Regions from separate parts of the Homo sapiens genome. Here all the other regions are linked to region 1. Evidence: fine-mapped QTL for protein levels in blood plasma. A gene starts in region 1. Each other region holds a variant in brackets. All regions are shown on one strand. Distances are between the middles of the regions. Region 1 holds the start of VMO1 (vitelline membrane outer layer 1 homolog). Region 2 has its middle 5.6 kb from the start of TM4SF5. Region 3 has its middle 13 kb from the start of TM4SF5. Region 4 holds the start of CXCL16 (C-X-C motif chemokine ligand 16).

What was found. PIP is the chance, under the fine-mapping model, that this variant and not a neighbour inherited with it causes the effect. Protein levels are from antibody-based Olink assays in UK Biobank. Linkage for the fine-mapping came from a reference panel and not from the study's own genotypes, which makes the PIPs less certain.
Region 2: its variant is fine-mapped to the plasma level of the VMO1 protein (UK Biobank, PIP above 0.99).
Region 3: its variant is fine-mapped to the plasma level of the VMO1 protein (UK Biobank, PIP above 0.99).
Region 4: its variant is fine-mapped to the plasma level of the VMO1 protein (UK Biobank, PIP 0.96).

What each region holds. Positions count from the first base shown.
Region 1 is chr17:4,783,897-4,789,041 of GRCh38, forward strand. It overlaps VMO1 (vitelline membrane outer layer 1 homolog), which reads right to left and starts at 2,468. Exons shown (of 3, transcript NM_182566.3): 1 at 2,262-2,468; 2 at 2,041-2,156; 3 at 1,389-1,763. The coding sequence starts at 2,456. The coding sequence ends at 1,466. GLTPD2 (glycolipid transfer protein domain containing 2) reads left to right here and starts at 5,068. Exons shown (of 4, transcript NM_001014985.3): 1 at 5,068-5,145. The coding sequence starts at 5,116.
Region 2 is chr17:4,763,760-4,768,904 of GRCh38, forward strand. No RefSeq gene overlaps it. Among named protein-coding and RNA genes, the nearest start is that of TM4SF5, 5.6 kb to the right of the region's middle. RefSeq lists a silencer at 305-467. The variant C/T (reference allele first, on the strand shown) is at 3,128.
Region 3 is chr17:4,756,120-4,761,264 of GRCh38, forward strand. No RefSeq gene overlaps it. Among named protein-coding and RNA genes, the nearest start is that of TM4SF5, 13 kb to the right of the region's middle. The variant T/C (reference allele first, on the strand shown) is at 3,069.
Region 4 is chr17:4,738,013-4,743,157 of GRCh38, forward strand. It overlaps CXCL16 (C-X-C motif chemokine ligand 16), which reads right to left and starts at 1,916. Exons shown (of 6, transcript NM_001386809.1): 1 at 1,249-1,916; 2 at 770-908; 3 at 396-478. The coding sequence starts at 1,327. ZMYND15 (zinc finger MYND-type containing 15) reads left to right here and starts at 1,821. Exons shown (of 14, transcript NM_001136046.3): 1 at 1,821-2,038; 2 at 2,507-3,128; 3 at 3,570-3,804; 4 at 3,903-4,058; 5 at 4,319-4,479. The coding sequence starts at 2,537. RefSeq lists enhancers at 429-1,334, 1,335-2,239 and a silencer at 1,788-2,007. The variant GC/G (reference allele first, on the strand shown) is at 4,130.

The DNA.
Region 1 (5,145 bases):
TAGGCAGAGAGAACAGCAAGGACAAAGATCCTAAACAGGGATCAGTTCTGTAGGAGAAAATAATGAAAACTATGGAAAAGACACTGTAACCTCTTAAGCTCTAGAAAATGGAACTGTAAAGCCATTGTGGCCTTGTCACCTCCTAATTTGATAGAATTTTTTTTTTTTGCTTTTTTTGACAGGGTCTCACTTTGTCACTCAGGCTGGAGTGCAGTGGCACGATCTCGGCTCATTGCAGCCTCCACCTCCTGGGCTAAAGCAATCCTCCTGCCTCTGCCTCCTGAGTAGCTGGGACTACAGGCGCACACCACCATACCCCTGCTAATTTTTGTACTTTTTGTAGAGAGGGGATTTCACCATGTTGCCCAGGCTGGTCTCCAACTGCTGAGCTTAAACAATCCACCCACCTCAGCCTCCCAGAGTGCTGAGATTACAGCTGTGAGCCACCACATCTGGCCATAATTTGGTAGAATTTTCTTAATCTTAGGTCACTGGTTCAGAAAGGAGACAACCTAGGCACCTAATGGGGGCAGGGTGTCTGCAGACTCTCTCAGAAAGCCAGACTTCCTGGGCCCGCACGATGGTGCAAGCCGGTAATCCCAAAACTTTGGAAGGCTGAAGCCAGTGGATCACTTGAGGTCAGGAGTTTGAGACCAGCTTGGCCAACATGGGGAAACTCCATCTCTACTAAAAATACAAAAATTAGCTGGGCATGGTGGTGGGTACCAGTAGTCCCAACTACTCAGGAGGCTGAGGCAGAAGAATCGTTTGAACCCAGGAGGTGGAAGTTGCAGTGAGCCAAGATCATACCACTGCACTCCAGCCTGAGTGACAGAGTGAGACTCCAAAAAAAAAAAAAAAAAAAAAAGCCAGACTTCCATCACTTGTCTGAAAATTATCTGTTTAAGTGCGTTTTTCTCGAGTCCATAACTTTTCAGCAATCTACCATAGACCCCTGAGACCAAATCCAAATGTATGCCTCACCTAATGCTAAGTTAGGAGGGGAAAAGGAGACTCAGTTCCCCATCCCTTAAACAGGCGAGACCAGCCGGGCATGGTGTCTCACGCCTGTAATCCCAGCACTTTGGGAGGCCAAGGTGGGCGGATCATGAGGTCAGGAGATCGAGACCATCCTGGCTAACACGGTGAAACCCCGTCTCTACTAAAAATACAAAAAAAAAAAAAAAAAATTAGCCGGGCGTAGTGGCGGGCGCCTGTAGTCCCAGCTACTCGGGAGGCTGAGGCAGGAGAACGGCGTGAACCCGGGAGGCAGAGCTTGCAGTGAGCCGAGTGAGCCACTGCACTCCAGCCTGGGGGACAGAGCGATACTCCGTCTCAAATAAATAAATTAATAAATAAATAAATGAAATAAACAGGCGAGACCAAAGTCAACTCAGAGAAGCTTTAATAGCAAGAGGTGGGACTAGCCTCCTGGCCCGGGAGAGAGCGGCGGCGGCGGCGCCGTTCAACTGCGGCAGCAGAATAAGCGCGCGTCGTTCAGCGCAGTGTCATCGCCGAGGCCTCTAGGTCCCTGGATCTTGGTCTGCAGGCCGCACGCGCCCTTGGGGCAATGGTCACTCCAGTCTCCAAAGTCTCCCCAGCTCAGCCCAGGCCCCTGCAGTTCCTCGCCGTCTGAACAGCGGAAGCGCACGTTGTTCGCTGCTGTGTTGTCACCGAGGGTCGTGGGTGCCTCCACGCGAAGCGAGAAAGCCACTAGGTAGGCGCCGCCGCGACACCACAGCGGCTCACTCCATTCGCCCCAGCTGCAAGGCAAAGGGAGATGCGTTGCCTCTGCGGGCCCCCCATTCACCAAGCCCTTGAGACTTTCCAAGCCAAGTGCTGTGTATATGACCTGGTGGGCTGGGTGCTCCCCGACCTCCGCCGAGGAGCGGAGGAGGGGTCTTCCATCCACCCTTCGCCTCCCCGGTCTATACTGCCCCGTAGCTCTGGCGGAGCCAGCCTGCCTGTTGCGACGGAGTATGTAATAGAGGGTAAGGGACATACCATCACCCCAAGGGATCCTCGACCCCTGCGCCCCACCTTCCAGACTGGGACTCTACCACGTGCGTATTGCCTAGGACGTTCCCGCGCGCGCAGTGCAGCCTGATCCCATTCAGTGCAGTGTCGTCGCCAGGAATGCCTTGGGGAGGCTCCACCTGGGTATCGAGGAGAGGGGCAAGGGCGAGTCACGGAATTATCATCCTTGGCTCTATGGTCCCACGCATCTCCGCCCTCTCCAGGACCTACGCCTGAGCCCCAACCTTGAGCGAGAACCCGCTGGCGAAGAATCCATCGGGACACATCTCAGGCCAGGCCCAGTCGCCCCAGGGACCCCCGCTGGTCACTTCGATGACCGCCGTGTAGCCGTTCCGGCCATCTGTCTGTGCACATGTGAAACCAGTCGCCCGCAGAAGCAGCAGCAGCGGCAGCAGCTTGGCTCCTGCGCCCCGCTCCATCCTGTAGCGTCTGTGAATCAGGCCTCCTAAGCAGATTTATATCAGTTTGGCCTCTGTGAGGGCTCCGATTGCGGAAGGGCCTCCCAGATTAAGTGAAACCCAAAACTAATCCACTCCCGGAACCCTATTTCCTGCTCCCGGAGGCAGAGGCTCCCAGAGCTAGGGTAGGAGGGGCAGTGAGAGAGGGCGAATTAAAATAACCATCACCTACTGAATATTTACTATAGGCTACGAATTATGGTTAGCGCTTTGCAGTATTTTGTTTAACCCTCACAACAATTTTTGGGGGGTGAGAATTATCCTTCCTATTTTGTAGATGAGGGAACTGGCTCAAAAATGGCAAGCAACTTGCCTTAGGTTTACAGCCAAGCAAGCTGGGAAACATTCCAGCAGTGAGAGTGGAGACAGAGCAGAGACCAGGGCTAGGGATGGAAGTGACCTCCCGGGAGTCCCACCAGTGACGGGATGGGGCAAGAGCAACCCAGAGACCTCCAGGATGTGAGGGGACATCAGAGTGAGGATAGGACAAGAATCCTCGAACTGGAGAAGCTGAGAAAACTCCTGTCAGCTCAGAAGTCTCTTCCTCCTCTGAGAGGTCTTCTGAGAGCTCAGGGCCCTAACACCTTGAGAATCCGGGACACTCCTCCCTACCTTAGAAGAAGACATATACAAACAGAAATAATTCTTTTTTATTTTTATTTTTTGAGTCGAAGTCTCACTCTGTCGCCCAGTGGCGGCATCGCAGTGGCGCGATCTCGGCTCACTGCTACCTCCACCTCCTGGGTTCAAGCGATTCTCCTGCCTCAGCCTCCCGAGTAGCTGGGACTACAGGCGCGCGCCAAGACGCCGCCCCGCTAATTTTTGTATTTTTAGTAGAGACCGGGTTTCACCGTGTTGGCCAGGATGGTCTCTATCTCTTGACCTTGTGATCCGCCTGCCTCGGCCTCCCAAAGTGCTGGGATTACAGGCATGAGCCACCGCGCCCGGTCCAACAGGAATAACTCTAAGAAGTTTGGGGACAGGAGACTAAGAACCCCTAAGAAAAGATCATGCTGTTTCTTCCATTGCTTTCTGTATCCTTATATCCTTTCCTGGAATGCCTTTCCCCCTGTGACCACCAGATGGACTCCTAATTTGCAAAACAAAAAGCGAGAAAATCTGGCTAAGTATGTTTTTTGTTTGTTTGTTTGTTTGTTTGTTTTGAGACGAAGTCTCACTCTGTTGCCCAGGTTGGAGTGCAGTGACGCCATCTCGGCTCACTGCAACCTCTGCCTCCCGGGTTCAAGCGATTCTCTTCCCTTAACCTCCCGAGTAGCTGGGATTATAGGCGTTCGCCACCACGCCCGGCTAATTTGTATATTTTTAGTAGAGACGGGGTGTTGCCATGTTAGCCAGGCTGACCTCAGGTGATCCGCCCACCTCGGCCTCCCAAAGTGCTGGGATTACAGGCGTGAGCCACCGTGCCTGGCCTAAAAATGCCTGGCTAAATTTGTTAGGGGCCACAACCCCAGATTTACCTGCCCCTCATACACACTCCTTTGTTTATTCAATACCTATTTAGCAATAATATGTTTTGGCTTAAGCAATATTCCACTTGCTGTAAGCAAGAATAACAAGGCCCCTGTCATCAGAGGTCACATTCCAGTGGGGGAGACAGAGGATAAATTCTCCCCCAGTGGACCTTGAGCTCTGTGAAGGCACTTTTGTATTCTTGAAGCCTAGTACGTGCGGAAGTACTTAATAAAAGTTGGTGCAATGAATGATTGAAGAGCCAATCTGGAGTTTTGAAAATTAAACCACAAAAATGCAAAAGGATAAAGCCTGACGTACGTATATGATTGCAAGAGGTCATGTATCCAGGTCAAGACAAAGTCCCCTGGGAATAAGATAGAGAATTTAGAAGTGGGTGTTCCCGGCTGGGCGCGGTGGTTTACGCCTGTAATCCCAGCACTTTGGGAGGCCAAGTTGGGCGGATCACAAGGTCAGGAGTTCGAGACCAGCCTGTCCAGTATGGTGAAACCCTGTCTCTACTAAAAATGTAAAAATTAGCCGGCACTTTCCAGCCTGGGCGACAGAGCGAGACTTTGTCTCAAAAAACAAAAAAACAAAAAACAAACAAAAAAAAAAAGAGAGCGAGAGAGAAGTGGGTGTTCCCTGGATCCCAGAGCCGGACAATGCTTGAACTTAATAAGATTTATAGGGCAATTGTGGTCAGCTTTTCCATTTAGTGTTTTCACATACGTTATCATTTAATCCTCACATGAGGCTTGCAAAGTACCTATTATTATCCTCAATTTACAGTGGAGGGAACTCAAGCCCAGAGTGAATTTAGGGCCCACACCACTGCTCAGTAGGGGAGCTGTTCTGGGCCCTGCCTCTCTTCCCAATACTCAGAGTGCCTCTTGCTACAGCTGGCCCTACAGGGAAGGGAAATGCACTGATCTGTCACTGCTGTCGAATCCCCCAAATTCCCTTCACCCAGTTCCTCGCACCCAGGGTAGCTGCCCTTTGGGGCGAAGGGCACAGGGGAAGGGGCCTTAGTAGGTTAATTATTAATCCTTTGCGCCTCAGGGCACCACGGGCTTCTGTCCCCTCCTGGAGGCGGAGGGACACGGACTGGCTAGGCGCTGGTGAGGGGGCGGCGGTCCCAGCAGCAGGCATGGGAGTGGCGGCGCGGCCCCCAGCCCTG
Region 2 (5,145 bases), 20 kb before region 1:
AGAGTGCATGCAGTGGCATGATCTCAGCTCATTGCAACCTCCGCCTCCCAGGTTCAAGCGATTCTCCTGCCTCAGCCTCCGGAGTAGCTGGGATTACAGGCATGTGCCACTACGCCCGGCTAATTTTGTATTTTTATAGAGATGGGGTTTCTCCATATTGGTCAGGCTGGCCTCAAACTCCCAACCTCAGGTGATCCACCTGCCTTGGCCTCCCAAAGTGCTGGGATTACAGACGTGAGACACCACGCCTGGCTAATTTTTGTATTTTTAGTAGAGATGAGGTTTCACCATGTTGGCCAGGCTGGTCTCAAACTCCTGACCTCAGGTGATCCACCCGCCTCAGCCTCCCGAAGTGCTGGGATTACAGGCGTGAGCCACCGGGCTTGGCCGAAAATATAGTCTCTAGCTTAGCAGCCATGTGCCTTTAGCAGCAGACTACAAAGTCTGCTACTATAATAAAAGCAGAAGACTGGGACTAACTCACTATCTCTGTCACATACTAGGTCAAGCATGTGCTACTCAGCTATGGGCAGTGAGTACGGAGCCACAGAGTTTAGACAGATTCCCTGGAGAGGATATTCGCTGGATGCCTCCCCATCATTCATTCTGTCTTTCCTCCTTCCTAATACTGCCCTTAATTTCCCAGCCTGGTGGCTTAGACAGAATTGACAACACCCCCTGTGCTGGAATGCCTCCATGTGAAGAAGGACATGTTTGCTTCCCCTTCCGCCATGATTGTAAGTTTCCTAAGGCCTCCCCAGCCATGCTAAACTGTGAGTCAATTAAACCTCTTTCCTCTATAAAGTACCAGTCTCGGGTATGTCTTTATTAGCAGCGTGAGAACAGACTCATACAGCATGTTCTACCCTCTGGCCACAGTGATCCGTGTAAGGGACAGACATAGAACCCAGTCTGCACCAAGGAGAAATTTTCTGGGGTAAATGGGAAAGAAACTTCCTCTCTACTCAGGGAAAGCTATGCGAGGAGATTCTCTTCCTCCTGGTGGTAGGGTGTAAAGACATAAGGTCTGAACTGCTGCAGCTAATACTACTGTCAGGAGGAAGATCCCACTTAAGGAGGAAGTCAAAGCCAAAAAAAGGAACAGCAGAGAGAATGGCAGAGAAACAAGAACACTGATGACATCCTGAACTTCTGGACCAAACTGCACCTGCAGTTAGTCCTACTTCAGTCCTACTGGATGTTTTGATTGCTTGAACCAATAAATTCCCTTTTTGTTGCAATAGAGTTGGGTTTTCTGTTACCTGGTATAGTTCCTTACAATGGACCCAGAGTATGGCAAGCAATAATGACATATTTAATAGTATTAATATCATTTTTAGAATTTACATTATACAGCTGCCCTTTAAAAGAATTTTTTTTTTTTTTTTTTTTTTTGAGACAGAGTTTTGCTCTTGCCCAGGCTGGAGTGCAATGGCGCGATCTTGGCTCACTGCAATCTCCACCTCCCAGGTTCAAGCGATTCTCCTGCCTCAGCCTTCCCAAGTAGCTGGGATTACAGGCATGCGCTACCAAGTCCAGCTAATTTTGTATTTTTAGTAGAGATGGGGTTTCTCCATGTGGGTCCGGCTGGTCTCAAACTCCCGACCTCAGGTGAGCCGCCTACCTCGGCCTCCCAAAGTGCTGGGATTACAGGCGTGAGCCACCACGCCCGGCCACTTCAAAAGAAATTTTTACGGGGCTAGGTGCAGTGGCTCACGCCTGTAATCCCAACACTTTGGGAAGCCTATGTGTGCAGATTTCTTGAGCCCAGGAGTTCAAGACCACTTGGGCAACAAAATGAAACCCCATTTCTACAAAAAATACAAAATGATGGCTGGGCTCGGTGGCTCACACTTGTAATCCCAGCACTTTCGGAGGCCGAAGTGGGCGGATCACCTGAGGTCGGGAGTTTGAGACCAGCCTGACCAACATGGAGAAACCCTGTCTCTACTAAAAATACAAAATTAGCCGGGCGTGGTGGCACATGCCTGTAATCCTAGCTACTAGGGAGGCTGAGGCAGGAGAATCGCTTGAACCTGGGAGGCAGAAGTTGCAGTAAGCTGAGATTGCGCCATTGCACTCCAGCCTGGGCAACAAGAGTGAAACTCTGTCTCAAAAAAAATATATATATATATATTTACATATATACACACAAAAAGATTAGACAAGCATGGTGGGTGGTGAACATCTGTAGTCCCAGTTACTTGGCAGGCTGAGGCAGGACGATCACTTGAGCCCAGGAGATAGAGTTTGCAGTGAGCCAAGATCATGCCACTGCACACCAGTCTGGACAACAGAGTGAGACACTGTCTTTAAAAAAAAATGAGACTGGGCACAATGGCTCTGGCCGGGTTGTGGTGGCTCATACCTGTAATCCCAGCACTTTGGGAGGCCAAGACAGGTGGATCACTTGAGGTCAGGAGTTCAAGACCACCCTCCAACATGGTGAAACTTAGTCTCTACTAAAAATATAAAAATTAGCCAGGCCTGGTGGCCCATGCTTGTAATCCCAGCTACTTGGGGGGCTAAGGCAGGAGAATCGCTTGAACTCAGAAGGCTGAGGTTGCAGAGTCAAGATGACGCCACTGCACTCCAGCCTGCATGACAGAGCAAGACTCTGACTCAAAACAAAAGAGAAGAAAAATATTTTTTTCCAAAATGTGCATCCAGTTTTGTAACCAGATATATGAAATTTATTTAGACTTACGTCAAGACTTCCCCATTTTGGGGTTTTTATTTTACTTCATCTCTTGGTGAGTCAACACAATTTCTCTAAAAAAAAGGAGCCAAAGTGTTATTTTGAAATCCAAACATTCTCAGAAATGCAATTGTGTTGCCCTTAACATACAAAATGCAACTTAGACATGTATATGATAGTTCTACCTTTTTTGGTGGACACAGCTGCCTTACTCCTTTGTCCTCTGACATTCAGTATTTCAGAGAAGACTCTGGCCACACCAACTATTGTTTCTTTCTAAGTAGCCTTTTTAAATTCTGCCTAGATGTATCCTTTAATTCAGATATTTTGTCAGGATGAATCTATGGTCAGCTGACTTTTAATATTTTACCTGCCGTGCAGTATAACTTTCAACCCACTGACCTGAGTGGATCTATCTGCGCTCAGTGA[C/T]GTCTTCTCCTAGTGCAGATGTTTTAACTGTGGTGTCACTTCCACCAGTTCTATTCTTGTTCTTAGGAGAAGCCAGTTTCCTGAATTTTTTTTTTTTTTTTTTTGAGCCAGAGTCTCACTCTGTCACCCAGGCTGAAGCGCAATGGCGTGATCTTGGCTCACTGCAATCTCCACCTCCCGGGTTCAAGCGATTCTCCTGCCTAAACCTCCTGAGTAGCGGGGATTACAGGCACCCGCCACCATGCCCAGCTAATTTTTGTATTTTTAGTAGAGACGGGGTTTCCCCATGTTGGTCAGGCTGGTCTCGAATTCCTGACCTCAGGTGATCTGCCCGCCTCGGCCTCCCAAAGTGCTGGGATTACAAGCGTGACCCACTGAGCCTGGACCTTTTTTTTTTTTTTTTTTTTGAGATGGAGTCTTGCTCTGTTGCCCATACTGGGGTGCAATGGTGCGATCTCGGCTCACTGCAACCCCCACCTCCCGGGTTCAAGCGATTCTCCTGCCTCAGCCTCCTGAGTAGCTGGGATTACAGGTGCCTGCCATCACACTTGTCTAATTTTTGTATTTTTTGTGAAGATGGGGTTTCGCCATGTTGGCCAGGCTGGTCTCAAACTCCTGACCTCAGGTGATTCACCGAGCTTGGCCTCCCAAAGTGCTGGGATTACAGGCGTGAGCCACCGCGCCCGGCCAGCCTTTTCTTTCTTAAGTTATTCTGTTCCTAGTTCCAGGAGAATTCTAGTGATGTCATCAAAAATCTTCCTGGAAATCTCTTCCAAATCCTATAGTAAATGTTCCTCCAGAGGATTCTGTTTCTTTCAGTCTTCAGGTTGATTTGCCCTTCCCTGGTTTTGAGAAAATTTTTCAGAATCCCTATAATGTTTTGTTAACATTATTAACATTATTTCATTCATCCAGAATTGTATAAAAATAATGTAATGAATGCCTGTGGACCACCCCACCCACACAACTATTTTTTTTCTCTTTATTCATCCTCAAAACAGACACCATTTGGCTGGCCGCAGTGGCTCACACCTGTAATCCCAGCATTTTGGGAGACCGAGGTGGGTGGATCACCTGAGATCAGGAGTTCGAGAGCAGCCTGGCCAACATGGAGAAACCCTGTCTTCATCTCCACAAAAAATACAAAAATGAGCCAAGCGTGGTGGCGGGCACCTGTAATCCCAACTACTTGAGTCTCCTGAACCCGGGAGGCGGAGGTGGCGGTGAGCCGAGATCACGCCACTGCACTGCAGCCTGGGCAATAAGAGTGAAACTCTGTTTAAAAAAAAATAAAAAAGAGGCACCATCTCTCAGAATCAGCTTGAGCAACTTGTAGACAAATAGGTGGCCAGCTCTTGGCCCTGCTCTCTGTCCATCAGATCAATGGCTGAATCCCCTCTTCAGGTCCACGGTTGGAAGGGCCACTATTCGGGATATGACAGTTGCTCTGGTAGTTCAACATTAGTGCTGGTGACAACCTCTCATCGGCCACCTCCTGAGGAACCAGAGTTTTCCAGTGCCTGTGCTTCTCCCTCTGGCGCTGTTTCAGAGTAACTATTCTCCATACACTTCTCTTGCTGTGACTTCTGCTTATTTCTGGTGTCAGTTGCCTCTGGCTTTTGATTGCTTCTTTCTTGCATACAACTCTCAGTTTGAAGCCACCCCACTCTCTGATGACTGTCTCAGCTTGTCTCACAGACACATTTCCCAATCATGAAGATCCAGTCGGTGGATTGGTCATTATCCAGTCAGTGTACCTCTGTTGGATGGAGTTCTCACCTCGAGAGACCTCACAGGTCGCTGGCTACATGTCTGCCTTTGGGTCAGCTACTTGTTCCTCAATCAACCAGCCCTGGCCTAGATAAGGGGGTCTGTGTTAGGAACTTGTTACTGGGCAACAAACCATCCCCCTCGACGAAGTCTTAGTGTCAAATAAATATAAGCATTTATTTCACTGATACACACATAGGAGTTGGCTGGGGGTCAGGTGATCTAGGGTGGGATCCAATGTGACCCTT
Region 3 (5,145 bases), 28 kb before region 1:
CATTAGCTCTTCCTGTCTGCATGTTTCAACAACCACGTTGATCGAGTAGCATCGCAGTTACAAGCACAGAACTAAGCAGAGGCCTCCTAAGTGTAAGCCCCAGCTTGACTAACTTCTGCTGTGTAGTCTTAGGCAAGTCACTTTATTTAAAAAAAAAAAAAAAAAAAGGTCGGGTGTGGTGGCCTTTTTTTGTCTCTTAAAAAAAAAAAAATACAGAGGTCTCCCTATGTTGCCCAGGCTGGTCTTGAACTCCTTAGCTCAAGGGATCCTCCCCGTCTGTGCTTCCCAAAGTGCTGGGATTACAGGTGCGAGCCACCACACCTGGCCAGGCAACTTACTTTCACTCGGAGCTACATCCACTCATTCAGCAAATACTTACTGAGTGCCTACTCAGCTGCAGGGTGCTACCCTAGGTTAGTTGTGAGGATTATATACAACAAAGTATGAGAAGCCCCTAACACCAAGCTTAGTTCATTATCAAATAATAACATGGCTGGGCGCAGTGGCTCATGCCTGTAAACCCAGCATGTTGGGAGGCTGTGGCAGGAGGATTGCTTGAGGCCAGGAGTTCAAGACCAGTCTGGGCAACATAGCGAGATGCTGTCTCTTAAAAAACAACAACAGCAACACACTCCTAAAAATCTGTTATTATTTGTGCCCCATAGTGTGACCTTGGCTCACTGCAGCCTCAACCTCCTAGGCTCAAGCAATACTCCTGCCTCAGCCTTCCGAGTAGCTGGGACTACAGGTGTGTGTCACCATGCCAGGCTAATTTAAGTAAAAATTTTTTGGAGAGACAGGGATCTCACTGCGTTGCCCAAGCTGGTCTTGAACTCCTGGCCTCAAGCAACCCTTCTGCCTTGGCCTCCCAAAATTCTGGGATTACAGGCATCAGCTACCAAGCCTCATCTCATTGTCTGTTTATAATCATCTGTACTTGCAATTTGAATATTCTCACTGATTAGAACTATTTTGGGATTTTTTAAGAGGTCGCTGTTACTTAAACATTTAGAAATTTCTGGTTTATTGCATTATGGTCTGGGTATCAGTCCAGTACAATTTCAAGTTTGGGGAATTTCATATCTCCTTCACGGCCTAATATTTGACCAAGATTTGTAAATGTTTTATTGGCATTGAAAAAGGTAGGTTCTCCATTTATGAGATACAAAGTCAAGTAAATAGCACTTGAATACATGCTCCAGGAGGATGGAGGCTCAGGATGTTCACCGATGATGTATTTATGGCTGATATCTTCCTGGTATCCAGCAAAGGGCCTGGCACATATCATTTAGTAAATATTTGTTGAATGAGAGGCTAACTAATCAATCAACTTTATCATTGAGATTCTCTGTTTCTTTATACGTTTGTATATTTTTCTTACTTTGTCGAAGAGAATTATATTACAGTTTCCCACTACTATTATATTTCTGACAGTCTCCCTCGGCATTTCTAACTATTTGGGGTTTTTTTTCTTTTCTTTTTTTTTTTTTTTTTTTTTGAGACTGAGTGCCCTTTCTCATAAAACACCAACCACTTCCTCTATGGAAATAAATTTATTCCCAGTACCTTCTTGGGTCTTGCAAATATTACAGCCAAATGCATTTTTTTTTTTCTGGCATGTCAGTGTCTGCTCACTGTAGAGGAGGGTGAACAAGTTCTGGTCTCCTGATCTCCAGGAGTCTGAGCTAGGAGAAGGAAGAAGAGAGAAATGTCAAAGGGCTATATTTGCAGGGTTTCTATGGAAAAATCTGATTTCAAACAATCTTCATCATCTGAGATGGTTTCCCTTCTAATGACTCCATCTGGTCCTCACGTCGATCTTAGTTCTCAGGAGCTGATAACTCTGGCCTTGCCTTGCTCAGAGAGCATTCAACCCCCACTCCTCCCCAGGTCACATTGCCAAACACCTTCAGTGGCAATTCATGGGTCCTCAGAAAAGCATCACTCTCATTCCTGGTCTCCCTCCCTCCACTGCTCTCCTCTACAATCCCACCTCAGGTGATCCTCCCGCCTCGGCCTCCCAAAGTGCTGGCATTATAGGCATGAGCCACCGTGCCTAGCCCGGAATCTGCTTTTAACACCATCTTCAGGAAATCTGTATGAAGTTACGGTTTGAGAAGTACTGAACTAAGCAGACAGCCAAGTAAGAGCCCCTCCTGTCCAGGTCTAAGGGTAGTTCCGATTCCCTGACCAGCAAATCTTGAGTAGCTGCCTCCCAGTAGCTGCCTCCCAGTCACTCTCTACCACACCACCCTATTTCCTTCATGTAATTTAGCATAACCTCTAATTTCTAGTTTACTGCCTGTCTCCCCAAACTATAATATAAACTACGAAGAGGTACCTCATCTGTCAAGTTTAGTGCTGTATCCACTGGGTCCACAACTAGGCACATTACACAGAGGGTACTCGATCCTGCATTTCACTGACTTAAATACTTTCAAGTGTTATACATCATGCTTTTGTTTGTTTGTTTGTTTGTTTATTTTGAGACAGAGTCTGGCTCTGTCGCCCAGGCTGGAGTGCAGTGGCATCATCTTGGCTCACTACAGCCTCTGTCTCCTAGGTTCAAGCGATCCTCCTGCCTCAGTCTCCTGAGTGGCTGGGACTATAGGCGTGCACCACCATGCCCGGCTAATTTTTGTATTTTTAGGAGAGATGACATTTCACCATGTTGGTCCGGCTGGTCTCAAACTCCTGACCTCAAGTGATCCATCTGCCTCGGCCTCCCAAAGTGCTGGGATTGCAGGTGTGAGCCACAGCACCCGGCCAAACCATGATACAATGCTTTCTTAACACTTCAATTTTTATTTTATGCTAATTGAAGTCTCTTTCAGACCATTAAAAAATCTAATTCTGGTGCGTACACAAAAACAAAAATAATATGGTTAAAATATTCCAAAAAAATCTTTAAAGTCTGACTCTTCTGAATCACTTTCTATCAGTGCCTGTGTTGCTGTCCCCTCTACTGTCGAGGGCATTGGAGAAGCGGAATTTCTTTAAAAAGTGCTCCACTACTGTCTCCGAGATTTTCTTCTAAGCTAGTGACACATTCTTGTTTTACCAAATAG[T/C]GTCAACAAAATTGATGTCTTCACTAACAAATTTTCGCTCCACTACTTTATTTCTATGCTTAATACATCATTTCCTTTTGATTTCTGTTTTAAAGCATGTTATCTTTTTGAAGATTTTTTTTCTTAATAGCATTTATTTATTTATTTATTTATTTATTTATTTAGAGACACGCTTGCTGTCACCGAGGCTGGAGTGCAGTGGTGTTATCTCGGCTCACTGCAACCTCCGCCTCCTGGGTTCAAGCAATTCTCCTGCCTCAACCTCCGGAGTAACTGGGATTACAGGTGTACGTCACCATGCCTGGCTAATTTTTGTATTTGTAGTAGAGATGAGGTTTCGCCATGTTGTGCAGCCTGGTCTCAAACTCCTGACCTCAAGTGATCTGCCCGCCCCGGCCTCCCAAAGTGCTGGGATTACAGGCATGAGCCACCGCACCCGGCTGAATAGCCTTTATTTTTTAAAAGCAGTTTTAGGTTCACAGCAAAATTGAGCAGAAAGTACAGAGTTTTCTTTTCTTCTTCTTCTTTTTTTTTTTTTTTTTTTTTTTTTGTAGTTTTAGTAGAGATGGGGTTTCACCATGTTGCCCAGGCTGGCCTTGAACTCCTGACCTGAAGTGATCCGCCCGCCTCGGCCTCTCAAAGTGCTGGGATTACAGGCATGAGCCACTGTGCCTAGCCGAAAGTATAGTGTTTTCTTATACTCCTACCCCCACACATGCACAGCCTCCCCCACTATCAACATCCGGCACCAGAGTGATAGATTTGTTCCAATCAGTGAACTACATTGACACGTCATTATCAGCCAAAGTCCATCGCATAGTGTACATTAGGATTCGCTCTTGGTGTTGCACGTTCCATGGGTTTAGACAAATATATAATGACGCACCAGTATATATATAGTATCATACAAAGAAGTTTCACTGCCCTAAAATCCTCTGTGCTCTGTTTATTCCTCCTTCCCCTCCCTACCAACCCCTGGCTGCCACTGACCTTTTCACTGTCTTCAGAGTTCTGTTTTTTTCCAGAAAGTCATATACTTGTAGCCTTTTACTTTTTTTTTTTTTTCTCCCTTAAGATGGAGTTTCTTTCGCTCTTGTTGCCCAGGCTGGAGTGCAATGGCAAGATCTTGGCTCACCACAACCTCCGCCTCCCAGGTTCAAGTGATTCTCCTGCCCCAGCCTCCCAAGTATCTGGGATTACAGGCATGCACCACCATGCCCAGCTAATTTTGTATTTTTAGTAGAGTCTGGGTTTCTCCATGTTGAGGCTGGTCTCGAACTCCTGACCTCAGGTGATCCACCACCCTCAGCCTCCCAAAGTGCTGGGATTACAGGCGTGAGCCACCACGCCCGGCGGTTTTGGTTTATTATTATTATTATTATTTATTTATTTTTTTTAATAGAGACAGGGTTTCACCATGTTGTCCAGGCTAGTGTTGAACTCTTGGGCTCAAGGGATCTACCCACCTCAGCCTCCTAAAGTGCTGGGATTACAGGTGTGAGCCACCACACCTGGCCTTTTGTTTGTTTTTGTTAGAGACAGGGTCTTGCTCTGTCACCCAGGTTGGAGTGCAGTGGCACAATCACAGCTCACTGTAACTTGCAACTCCTGCCCTCAAGCAATCCTCCCGCTTCACCCTCCCAAAGCACTAGGATTACAGGCATGAGCCACCATGCCCAGCCCTACTGGAGCTTTGTAGTAAGTCTTGATGCTGGGTCGTGTCAATCTTCCAACTTTGCTCTCTTTCAATATTGTGTTGGCTATTCTGGGTCTTTCGCCCCTCCAGACAAACTTTAGAATCAGTTTGTAAATATCCATGAAATGGTTTTCTGGCATTTTGATTGGGATTGTGTTGAAGATACAGATCAATTTGGAAAGAACTGACATCTTGACAATGTTGAGTGTTCCTATATATGAACATGGACTCTCTCCATTTATTTATATCTTCTTCGATGTCTTTCATCAGAGTTTTGTAGTTTTCTTCATGTAGATCTTATACGTATTTTGTTAGATTTATATGTAAGTATTTAATTTGGGACAGTGCTAATGTAATTGGTACTGTGTGTTATTTGAAGAC
Region 4 (5,145 bases), 46 kb before region 1:
CCAGCTACTCAGGAGGCTGAGGCAGGAGAATCTCTTGAACCTGGGAGGCAGAGGTTGCAGTGAGCCAAGATCGTGCCACTGCACTCCAGCCTGGGTGACAGAGTGAGACTCCATCTCAAAAAAATAAAATAAAATAGTACTTTGATTTCAAGAAAAATATTAATAAGTAGACAATAGCACACGTGGTAGAATGAATTGGCAAAACTCATGAAGGTGATGGTGAATGATCACCCCGTTTGGCAAACAGGGACTCGAGTCTAAGTACTTTGGACAGGATCAGAAGAAGGTTCTAGGAATGTGCGGCCCCAGGGGAAAAGGCTCAGGTAAAGAAAACTGTCAGGTGGAAGCTGCTAAGCCCTGGAGGCAGAGCCTGAAGAGCAGTGGAAAAGTCTCACCTTTGAGATCAAGACAGCTCATCAATTCCTGAACCCATGGGTCCTTGTTGCCCCCACACACGCTCCAGGAAAGGAGCTGGAACCTGCGGAGGAGAGACCTGGGCTTAGCTGCGGCGCCTTCTTTCCTTCCCCGGCTCCTTCCTCATTCCAGAGGCGTGAAGTTGCCACCAAGAAAGAGCCCTTTCTCCTGGGACTGGGAAACTCCCCAGTAGGTGAGACGGAGTCATGAAGTTTCGGGGAATGAGAGCAAACGGAACCCGGAGATGGGGCTCGGTGAGCCGGGAAGGAGTTCAGGCTGGACCAGAGAGGGTCCTGGAGGCACCTGCAAGGAGGGGCCGCCCAGGCGCTGCCCTCGCAGAGGCAGGTAAAATTACCTCGTGTAGTATAGACACCGATGGTAAGCTCTCAGGTGTTTCCGGAGACGATTCATGAACTGAACCGATGGCGGGGAGTCGGAAGAAATTCTTTTACCACAATAACAACTTCCAGTGACGCTGCCCTCGTTGCCATTGCCTGCGCGGGACGGAGGTGGTCGGCACCCATTCCCAGGCCCAGGGTCCCCACTCCGCTGTTCCCTGGCATCCAATCCACAGCCCCATGACAGCCTCTCGGTGGACCCAGGGTCAGAGCGCCAGGCTCAACCCACACATCATCACGCCCCCGACAACATCCATAATCCCGCCCGGAGCCAGGCGTCCCCGGGCCTCTGTCCCCAACCCCAGGCGGCTGGCTGGCTTTCCTCTTGTCCCCGCTGCCTTCATCCACTCAACTCCGTGGGCCTCGTGTCCCCTCCCCAACTCACCCCCTTCCCGTGACAGGGGAATCTGGGTCCCCTGCCCCGCCCCCGGCTAACCTGGCTGAGTCAGGTACACCAGCAGGAGCAGAAGCAGGAGCAGGAGCACGCGGGACCCGGGCCGCAAGTCCCGTCCCATCTCGGGGCTCCGCGGACTCTGCGGGGATGGAGCCACCTCGCTCTGACTCCCAGACATGCTCCGGCGCGTGACGTCCAGCTGGTGTCTCAATGGCTTTCGCCGGGGACCGGAGGAGACGGCGGCCGGAGAGGAGGCGCGAGCCAGCTGCACCCCCCGGCCCTGCTGTGCCCCGACCGTGCGCTCAGTACTCGGCCCGCGCCATGCCAGCCTCTGGACGCAGGGAAAGCCGAGGAGGTGGAGCTCCCGCGCCCTGCGCCCCCGCACTGGGCCCGGCTCCGTCGAGGGAAGGCCAGGAATCTTGGAAGAAACCGAAAGAAAACTCCGGCGGCGGGCGAGGAGGGGCGGGAGGACGACGGCCCGAGGAGCCGATTCGGTTCGGTTCAGGAGGCCGCCCGCCTGGCCCGTCCGCCGACCTGTGAGGCGGCTGCACTGCCGGACCGGCCCTCCTCCTCCGAGGCACTTTCACTTCCCCGATCCGGGCGCCGCGGGACCCAGCCGCGCTGCATGAGCCTCCCGGGCGGCCCGGTGGAGAGAGTCGCCGCCAGCCCCGGCCGCGCGCACCTGCGGGGCAGCCACCCGCGGACGCACCGAGCCCGGGGGGCGTGGCCGCCCGCTGAGCCGGCGAGGGCTCGGGCAGCCCTGACGTCACAACCGCACCCGCGCACCCTCCACCGCGAGGTATTTACCTTCGAAAAGTGGTGGCGGCTGCAGGTACCGGAGGAGTGGGGCGGCCGGGAGGGGCTAGGTCTACCGGGGCTGCCCGCCACGCAGATCCGAGCCCAGGGAACCCCCTCGCTCCCACTCCCATACCCCACAGACGCATCCAAAATGCTTCCCTCCCCACCAAACCGTTCCCGATAGGATTAGCCCTCTCTCCTCTCTAGCCTTAATTTAAACTCTGCTTTTGAGGGTGTGAACTCTCCAATTTTAAGCCCCAAATACCATCTCATCCCTGAGTAGTCTTCTCCAACCCTGGTCACCCACTTTCAAGTCCAGCCCCCATTTTCCTCCCTAAACTCCCATCCTCAGCCCTGAAAAATCCTCTTCTCCGCTCCTAGCATATCCACGGATCCAACCCTAAGTGACTCTCAAACCTACCCTCTCCCTCAATTTGTGACCCAGCCCCAAACTCCATCATTGCTCTCCTGTCCCTCACCATATATCCCTTCTTTTGCTCAGTCTGGGCCGGGGCCCTGTGCCGCTGAAGACATGGAGTTTGTGTCTGGATACCGGGATGAGTTCCTTGATTTCACTGCCCTTCTCTTCGGCTGGTTCCGAAAGTTTGTGGCAGAGCGTGGAGCTGTAGGGACTAGCCTTGAGGGCCGCTGCCGGCAGCTGGAGGCCCAGATCAGAAGGCTACCCCAGGACCCTGCCCTTTGGGTGCTCCATGTCCTGCCCAACCATAGTGTGGGCATCAGCCTGGGGCAAGGGGCAGAACCAGGTCCTGGACCAGGCCTGGGGACTGCCTGGCTCCTGGGAGACAACCCTCCACTCCACCTGCGAGACCTGAGCCCCTACATCAGCTTTGTCAGCCTAGAGGATGGGGAGGAAGGGGAGGAGGAAGAGGAGGAAGATGAAGAAGAAGAGAAGAGAGAGGACGGGGGTGCAGGCAGCACAGAGAAGGTGGAACCAGAGGAGGACCGGGAGCTAGCCCCTACCAGCAGGGAGTCCCCCCAGGAAACAAACCCTCCAGGAGAGTCAGAGGAGGCTGCCCGGGAGGCAGGAGGTGGCAAGGATGGCTGCCGAGAGGACAGGGTGGAGAACGAAACAAGACCCCAGAAGAGGAAGGGACAGAGGAGTGGTAAGAACCCAGGGCTGGCCCTGCCCTACCCCTTGCCCAGCCATCCTCCCTTCGGAAGCCCTCCCCTGCCACTAGTTCTGAGTGCTGGCCTTCAGGCCAATCTGGCCTGAAAAGGTGTTTTTATTGACCCACAGTGGGGTTTTTTTTTTTAATTTAATGTTTAAACATTGCAAGAAAAAAAGTATCCAGAAGTCTGGATTTACACATTCCCAAGAAAAATCTCAAGCTCTGACAGTGGGCCTACATTTCTGCATGGCAGCGCATTCTGGTCCTCTGTAGCAGCTGTCCCCTTTAGAAGGAGCGTGCCCTCTCTACCCAGAGCCCTTTACTCAGTGAGGTTACTTGCCTAGCCCCGTAGGTATTTGAGTTTGGTACTCCTGACCCTGACCACATTTGTCTCTCGCTGCCCCCTACCACCTCAACTTTTCCCTCTTTCCCCAGAGGCTGCCCCCCTGCACGTTTCCTGTCTCTTACTTGTGACGGATGAGCATGGCACCATCTTGGGCATTGATCTGCTAGTGGATGGAGCCCAGGGAACCGCAAGCTGGGGCTCAGGGACCAAGGACCTGGCTCCTTGGGCCTATGCTCTCCTCTGTCACAGCATGGCCTGTCCCATGGGCTCTGGGGATCCCCGAAAGCCCCGACAGCTTACTGTGGGAGATGCCCGGCTGCATCGGTATAGAAATCTGGTATCTGAGGCTGGGGAGGACTCGGGCCCTGGATTCCCAAGCACCTCCTCCAGCCTGATGCCATCTCCCCCCCAACTGCATTTAGAGAGCTGGAGAGCTTGGTCCCAAGGCTAGGTGTGAAGTTAGCCAAAACCCCAATGCGGACATGGGGTCCCCGGCCAGGCTTCACCTTTGCTTCCCTTCGTGCTCGAACCTGCCATGTGTGTCACAGGCACAGCTTTGAAGCGAAGCTGACACCTTGGTGAGCAGCCCCAAAGCTGGGGGAGAGGAAGACCCCAATAGGCAAATAGAAGGAAGGCAGGGTGGTGGGGG[GC/G]GCCTAGCAGACAGAAGGAGAGGCAGGGACATGAGAAGATGCAGAGGAAACAATACAGACTGTTACAGGCGGTTAGAGGGTGTAAGACAAACAGACCGAGTGACATATGGGCAGCTGCTGGGCAGTTGAACAGCAGACAGGACCTACAGAGGTTAACACTAGGTGCCCACCACCCGCTGTGTCCCCAGCCCCCAGTGTAGTGCTGTCTTGTATTGTGGAGAGGCTTGTCTCCGGGCTGACTGGCAGCGGTGCCCAGATGATGTGAGTCACCGATTTTGGTGCCCAAGGCTTGCAGCCTTCATGGAGCGGGCAGGAGAACTGGCAACCCTGCCTTTTACCTACACCGCAGGTACCATAAGGAGGTCAGAATGGTTGGGGGAAACTGGGACCAGGTCTTTGAGACTGGGAATTAGATGTCTGGGAACAGGGTCCTGCAGTTGAAGGCTGAGTGTCTGGGGCTAGAGCCTAGATCCCTGGAACAAGGGCAGGGGCTGGGTGTTTGGGGCTGGAGACAGGGTCTCTGAAGCCGAGGCCTGAGTGTCTGGGTCCCTGAGAGCGTGCAGGGATTGGGGGACAGGGATTCAAACACTTACTTGCTTCCCAGCTCCACCACTAACTGCAGTGTGACCTTAAACAAACCACTTTACTTCTTGAAGCTTCCGTGTCCTCATGAGGGATACGGAGAAGGCCCATGGAATTGTTACAAGGATTATCTTGGCTTGGTGCCTGGTACGCTGGAGGCACTCAGAAATGGTAGTTCCCGGCCTGACTGGAACCAGACTTAGAACCAGGGTCCTCGCGGGAGGCTAGGGAGAGTTCAAGGCTGGGGTTCTAGGCCGGGCAATGGTTCACACCCGTAATCCCAGCACTTTGGGAGGCCAACTTGAGCCCAGGAATTTGAGATCAGCCTGGGCAACATAGACTCTGTCTCTACAAAAAATAGAAAAAATTAGTCAGGCATGGTGCACTCGCTTGTGGTCACAATTCTCGGGAGACTGAGGTGGGAGAATCGTTT